Homo sapiens: one gene and its partner. The protein of the gene in region 2 purifies or fractionates together with the protein of the main gene of each other region. This does not show direct contact. Each region holds a gene or a part of one and is shown on either strand. Other genes may lie near its edges.

Region 1 (3,652 bases), on a different chromosome or scaffold from region 2:
AATGCATACAGTATTGCAGCATCTCATCTCGAGATAGAAGGGTGGTCACACAGCCTTTTTCAAATGCTGCACCATTGGTCTGCTAGGCTGTGATTTTTGATACTAATTGGTTTCTGTTTTTCTTCGAAGAGTGAATGCATTGCCTGTGAGATACAGCTGGCTAATACTGGGTAGGGGGAGGGCCTCTTGTCCCTCAGGCACTTAGATTTTGGCGTTGTAATTTCATGATTCCTCTTAAGTGGTATTGGTTATTTTAAACATGCTTTTCAACTGATGTGACAGTAGTGTCTTTATTGCCAGAATGGCACAACATAATCATCCTGTTTTTAGGAAGATTAGAATATTTTCATTAAATAGTCTTTTTAATAACTAATTTAGCACTTAAAATTCCTTCCCACTAAATGAATAAAATGTTGAGGTTTGAGAAATAAGAAAGGGATGAGAATATTTTGGGACTCAATCATTGACATTTTATATACAGTTATGTATAATTAATGACACAACATTCAAAGTGTTCTTTCCAAAACTAAGAGAAGTACTAAGATGATTTCTTCTTCTAACAGTGCACTTAAAATTTAACTGAAAATTTTAAATACCTCTACACCTTGTTTCCTCCATTGTTTCTATGTGCAGAATGAGTCTTACCTGTAGATTTCTGTTGTGAGTTTTCCTGCTTTGACAATATGACCTACAGCCTCATTAAAGGGCTAGAGTGGAAAGGAGTGTCAGTAAAAGGTGCTACATGCTGAAGACTAAAACGGGAAGCTGGTAGGGGCGAGACTGATCTACGTAAGAGGCCAGCCAGAACCTTCAGAACATTGTGTGTATGATGAGCTTGTTGTATACTTTTATACTTCTAGATTCTCTTAGATTTGTGGCATATAATAAATATTTTATGGTTTGGAGTTTAGAGAGAACATTACTTAACTGCTAACTGGTTTGATACTTTTTTCAGGTCTCGTAGGTATCAGTAGTAGAAAAGTAGCATGAATCATTTAGTAGCACGAATCATTTAGTCCAGTCTGCTAAATTGTGAATCATACATTTGAAGAGTATTTTGTTGATTATAATTTAGAATGTTGTTGTAATCATTTGCAATACTTTCTTCATTGGTGTTATCCTCATTTCATTTCCTTTGGAAGGTAAGTTAAAAAATATCGGTGATTGATGTGAAATAACTTTTTTTTTTGTTTTTTTTTTTTTAAGAATCTTTAAAATGCTTGTGGTGGTTGTAGTGATTCTTTTAGCTTAAGTGTTGCCAGTACAACATTGGAGGTAACTTAATTTTTTTCTTTTTTCCCTACAGCTGTGATTGGGTTATTATACCCCTGCATTGACAGACATCTAGGAGAACCACATAAATTTAAAAGAGAGTGGTCCAGTGTAATGCGGTGTGTAGCAGTCTTTGTTGGTATAAATCATGCCAGTGCTGTATCCTTTACTCTGTAATGAAATGCATAATAACAAAGTGGCTTCCAACAAACCAAAGGTTAAACAGCCCCTTACAACTTCACTGTTGTCAAATTATGATATGCCCACTTAGTCAGAAGAAGAATGTCAACCATATTGTTGAAACATCGGTGTAGCAGCTGTGCAATTATAAAGTGGGGTATAGCCTTTCATTTCATTGTGTATTTTTCACTATCACTTAGAAACTTTGCAAATTTGAAAACTTTACTTGTTTTTCTTAAATTTGGTTACTTAATTACTTTTGTGTAGTTAATCCAAAAATGGAACAGGTACATTTTCAGAGGAGTTTTTTCCTCTCTTTCTTTGTTAAGAATTGCTAATAAGTACATGTGGTAGCTTCAGGTGCTATTTTGTCTTTTGTTTTTCTTAACTTAAAGAAGCTTTTTTTTTTTAAAGGTAGATGCATTGGTTTTAATCAATACCGACAAACCACATAAACGGCATAAGTAGAAATACCAACTTAGACCTTGGCCAAAAAATAAGTTTCTACCCTAGTACATATTTTCAAAGTTTTATTGTTTGAAGATTCAGACATTTTATTTAGTGGTTAATGAGTATTTTTACAGTGTCTCAGGTAGCCCCTATTCCCCTTCCCCTTTCTACCTTCTCTGCCCAGAAAAAAATGTTTGCCCTCATAAGGTTTTCCTCCTATCATCCTCTTTATTTCCTCTCTTGTACTTCCTCCTCATTTGCTCTGACTTTCCTTGGTAGAAGAGGAACTAGGAAATGCTATTCCTGTCTTTTTCTAGGAGATGTGGTTTAGACAATGAAGGTGGCAGGAGCCTTGGGTACTTGGAAAAGCAAGAAGTGTGACTCAGGCTGCCAAAAGTTTGCTCTTATAACTCTGCACTGGACTTGGGGCAGGCAGAGTTAGCTAGCTGGAGAGAGAGGGTGGGTCATGTGTCAAGTAGACCCCTGTGTCTTTCCCAAAAAGTATTGAGGTGTTTTGGATAAGCTTGGGGACAGAAACCATAGAAAAGAGCAGGGTCCTAGATTCTGAAAACACATCTGCCTTCCTCTGCACAGTTGTGCTGGCTGTTGCAGGTCTGTGAATTTGGAAGTCCCTCAGTGGCTATTATTAGTTTTAATTTCTGTTTGTATTGAGGACATTTCCACATGTTTATTTTGGTGAACTTTTTGAGATTTAAGATTTTATAAAAAATCTAGTGGTCAGGAGGGCTTAAAAAGTTAAAATCATATACTATTATATCTAGAAGAGAACTTAGAAATCACCTAGTTCCACATTTTCTTTGTAAAGATAATAAACAGAAGCTAAAGAGGTTAGGTAATTTACTAAGTCATTTATACTGCGACATTGCAGCAGAGCTGAGAACAGCCCTGAGACAGCCTGACTAAAGTCTAGAAACATCTCATTTTCCTACCCAGGAACCTCAAAACTGTGTCAGTTCCTCTCTGTCCGGTGGATTAGATCTTTCTCTCTTAGACACTTCCACTTTGATTTTTGTTTTTAAGTAGAGAAATTTAAATAGCCTTTTCTGAAATTCTAAAAACTTAATAAGTTCAAATTCTTTGCTTTGTTCACTCTCTTTCTCAATGAAATACTTAAATATAGCAATCTTAGATATCCTGTTGTCCTTCAAGTAAAGTCCAACATGTTTACCAAATTTATAGCATACACTTCTAATATTAGGTTACTTAGACTTTACAAAATCATTTGGCACTATTTTTTTATTTTTTGAGACGGAGTCTTGCTCTGTCACCCAGGCTGGAATGCAGTGGCACAATCTTGGCTCACTGCAAGCTTCGCCTCCCGGGTTCACGCCATTCTCCTGCCTCAGCCTCCTGAGTAGCTGGGACTACAGGCACCTGCCACCACACCCGGTGAATTTTTCTGTATTTTTAGTAGAGATGGGGTTTCACCATGTTAGCCAGGATGGTCTCAATCTCCTGACCTTGTGATTCGCCCACCTCGGTCTCTCAAAGTGCTGGGATTACAGGCATGAGCCACCGCACCTGGCCCATATGGCACTATTTTAAGATTGATATATCTATTTACGCTGGAAGCCTCCTTACTTCGCTGTGACTTTTAATTAAGTTTAGTTAGCAAACATGAAACTCATTTAATACCAAATTCCACTCTTTACATGAGTGTTTATTTCATAGGGAAATCAGAGCTCTAAACCTTTTCTTTGAACTTTAAGTATAATGACAGCATAACAAT
Region 2 (3,652 bases):
CTCATGCCAGCTCTTATTTCCTACTCCTTAACTCTGAGCATTCTCCAAAGGGTCCAAAATTCCATTTTTTTTCCTCCTAGTTTCCTTCGGACTTAGAAACATCTTCCAAGTTCCCTTTTTCCTGTATAATGCTGAATCTGTTTCTTAAAATAGTCAACTCTTTTTATTGTTCTTCACATTACAAAAGTAACACTCAGAAAACCAAGACATGTTTTTAGAAAATGGTAATTCTCCTTCCCCCACTCCATAGACACCATCTTTCTTTGTACTCTGACAGAAATGCATATTTTAAGTAGGATTACAATAAACACATTATTATCCAAGGTTTCAACAATGGGAATGACATCTGAATACTCACCTACTTTCACTCCTACAACTGCAAATCTCCAAAGTTCTGAAACTCGACTTGCCTTAAACTAGAATCAGCTTTTCCTTGTGATTTGCTATTTCAGTTGAAGGTACCATTATTGTTCTTTTAGAGATACTCCCAACCCAGCCCCACATGCTCAAACTTTGCCAATTAGTTGCCAAATTCTTCTAACACCTCTATCTCCCTTTTCTGTGACACCAATCAATCAGTCTGTCTCAAAAAACCCTCATCTTGTCCAAATCCATTTACAAGCCATCACCAAATTGCCTTTCTTCATTCCCTGCTCAAAATACTTCAGCGGCTCTGAAATTACTATCAACTAAAATCTACATTCTTGCTCCTGGCATTCAAGAACCCAATTTGCTTTACAGTAATATTCCTCCTAACACACACACATCAGTGCTCCAGACTTGGATTCCCCAAACACATTCCTTTCTCCACTATAGCTACAGCAGTGTTTACATTCTTTTTGCTTGGAATGATGTCCCCAACCTCCCAATCCCTGACTATTCAAATCCTACCTATCCTAGAAACCTACTTTCTTTGATAGAAACTGTTCTTTCAGCATACCTGCAGAACTTAGTGAAACATTTAACACTCATATATCACCTGATATTGTAGTCTGCAGTTATCTAAGTATAATCTACCCTATTACACATGTATCTATAACAGAAAGCAAAGATCCTACCCTGTCCATCTATGGATTCTACAATATTTTGTACAAAATAAGTACAATTAGTATTCATTAGGAAATGTCTGTCACATCTGGATGTTTTTAAAGGCAACCACAAAATATAGCCTGCTTGAAAAATAAAATCTATGTTTCAGACAATGAGAAACCATACCCTGGAGTACAGAAAAAGTGACAAACTCCAAATTAAAAATCCATCTTGGCTGGGTGTGGTGGCTCACAATGGTAATCCCAGCACTTTGGGAGGCTGAGGCGGGTGGATCACTTGAGGCCAGGAGTTCAAGACCATGTCAACATGGTGAAACCCTGTCTCTACCAAAAATATAAAAATATGCCAGGGTGGTAGCACGTGCCTGTACTCCCAGCTACTCAGGGGGTTGAGGTGGGAGAATCGCTTGAACCCGGGAGGCATTGCAGTTAGCTGAGATCGCACCACTGCATGCCAGCCTGGGTGACAGTGAGACCCTGTCTCAAAATACATAAATAAATAAATATTAAATAAAATAAAAATCCATCTATCCACCTTATTTCAGCAGGTAATCAAGACATTGCATATTATTACAGTAGACGCATTTCACAATCCACTGCACATATAAGCAAGGGCTAGTTCATTTAAGTGATGACTCTGTCCAGGGATTTAAAATGTATTCTGTGCCAAAATGTCAAGTCATCTGTGAAAAGGAAAACAAAAGGACACAATAAAGTAGAAGACATATAAACCTCTAAATACAAACCACCTGATTCCCCAAGAAAATGGGCCACTAATAATCCCCCAAAGAGTTGTGAGCTCAGAACAGGCTCTTTTAAATATATATATTTTTAATATATATATTTTTAAATATATATATATTTAAATAATATATATATATTTTTAATAGATATATTTTTAAATATATATATATTTAAATATATATATATATTTTTAATATATATATTTTTAAATATATATATATTTAAATAATATATATATATTATATATATATATATTTTTTTTTATATTTTTTTTAATGGAGTTTCGCTCCTGTTGCCCAGGCTGGAGTGCAATGGCGTGATCTTGGCTCACTGCAACCTCTGCCTCCCAGGTTCAAGCGATTCTTCTGCTTCAGCCTCCCAAGAAGCTGGGATTACAGGTATGTACCACCACTCCCAGCTAATTTTGCATTTTCAGTAGAGACAGGGTTTTTCCACGTTGGTCAGGCTGGTCTCAAACTCCTGACCTCAGGTGATCCACCCGCTTCGGCCTCCCAAACTACTGCGATTATAGGCGTGAGCCACTGCGCTCGGCCCTGAAAAGATTTTTTTATTAGAAACTTCTTCCATGGAAGGTAACAAGAAAATGGAATTAATTCAGCCTACCAGATGCCATATGTAATCTTACATTCTCTACATGGAAAACCACCTTATTTTCCTGAGACAAAACTTCAGAAACTTTAAAACAAATCTTCTAAGTTGGGTCAAAACCAAAACAAAATAACTCTAGTTCTACTTTATGCCACTTAGAGGGGAGAAAGTCAAGCAGGAACTGTAAATTATTTTTGTCAACTTGCTATTCACAAAGTAGTAAATTAATCTTCAGTAACTATTCATGAGCTTTGCCATAATTTTATAACTAATTTTTAAAATTCTAATAACTTTTTTCCTGAAGCTTGTTTTTACTACACACAAATGAAGAAATTATTTGGGTTTTAGAAACATTTCTAGTGAAAAAGTGCCATTTTGCTTTATGCAAATGTATCAAAGAAAAAAAGGGGAAGGCATCAGATAGACAAATAATGTAGTAAGACTACAACCTCAAAATTTGGATGTATCCCAGCAAGTAACAATCTGACAATACTCTATCCTGATTAAAATCACACCCCCCAAGATGTAATAGTGAGTTAACATTTCAAGAATAGTATATGTTTGTTTTAATTCCTACCCAAAGTTTGTAGGTATATGGGGTTCATAGATTTTCCTTTTATAGTCACGTTCCTACCTATGGAATTTGGGAAGAATCTGCTCTCATTTTAAAAACCAATATCCTAAGTAACAAGTCTCCAAAGTAATCATCTTTCTCATGGCCTTTGCAGAATAATATCAAAGTTTCACTGCATTTTTACATTAGACATGAAAGCCTTTCTTGGTATTTAAACTGTAGGTCTAAGAAAATATAAAAGTCCAGAGACAGTTTCTCATTAGGATTTGGAAGTGACTTGCACAAGTAATCAAGACTGTATATAAATGCTGCTTTATAAAAAATTTTGAGAACAGAATTTACTGAAATCACAACTCAGAGATCTCAGTCCAATTCTCCAGTGATTAAGAGAGTTCACTAGAGTTTTCAAGGTAGCCAAAAAGAGGCAGGTATCCAAATCAATTCAGGAACTTTGAAACTATATATGAACTCAACTCATGAAAGAGTTCAGGCCTTTTCAATTTGGATTACCAAAAACAGGCAAATAAAAACAAAAGAAAAAATAAAAACTTACTATACATGTTACATAACAAAGTGTTTCACTCTTTTATGTGTAAAGTCTATTCATACCCTTACCCTCTTTTGGAAACTTATGACTAAAAATCAGGGTACAAAACATAATATTTACAATTCTCCA

What was found. Proteins that work in one complex are often made in the same cells at the same time.
Region 1: the proteins of RNF139 (region 2) and INSIG2 purify together in Homo sapiens (affinity purification with western blotting, with the first as the bait; one study listed by BioGRID). This does not show direct contact.

The regions. Positions count from the first base shown.
Region 1 is NC_000002.12:118,101,891-118,105,542, forward strand, and holds part of INSIG2 (insulin-induced gene 2 protein), read left to right. Parts: intron 1-1,306; coding exon 1,307-1,431; intron 1,432-3,652. UniProt on the Homo sapiens protein: Oxysterol-binding protein that mediates feedback control of cholesterol synthesis by controlling both endoplasmic reticulum to Golgi transport of SCAP and degradation of HMGCR.
Region 2 is NC_000008.11:124,481,340-124,484,991, reverse strand, and holds part of RNF139 (E3 ubiquitin-protein ligase RNF139), read right to left. Parts: intron 1,733-3,652; exon of another isoform or gene 1,585-1,732; intron 1-1,584. UniProt on the Homo sapiens protein: E3-ubiquitin ligase; acts as a negative regulator of cell proliferation through mechanisms involving G2/M arrest and cell death.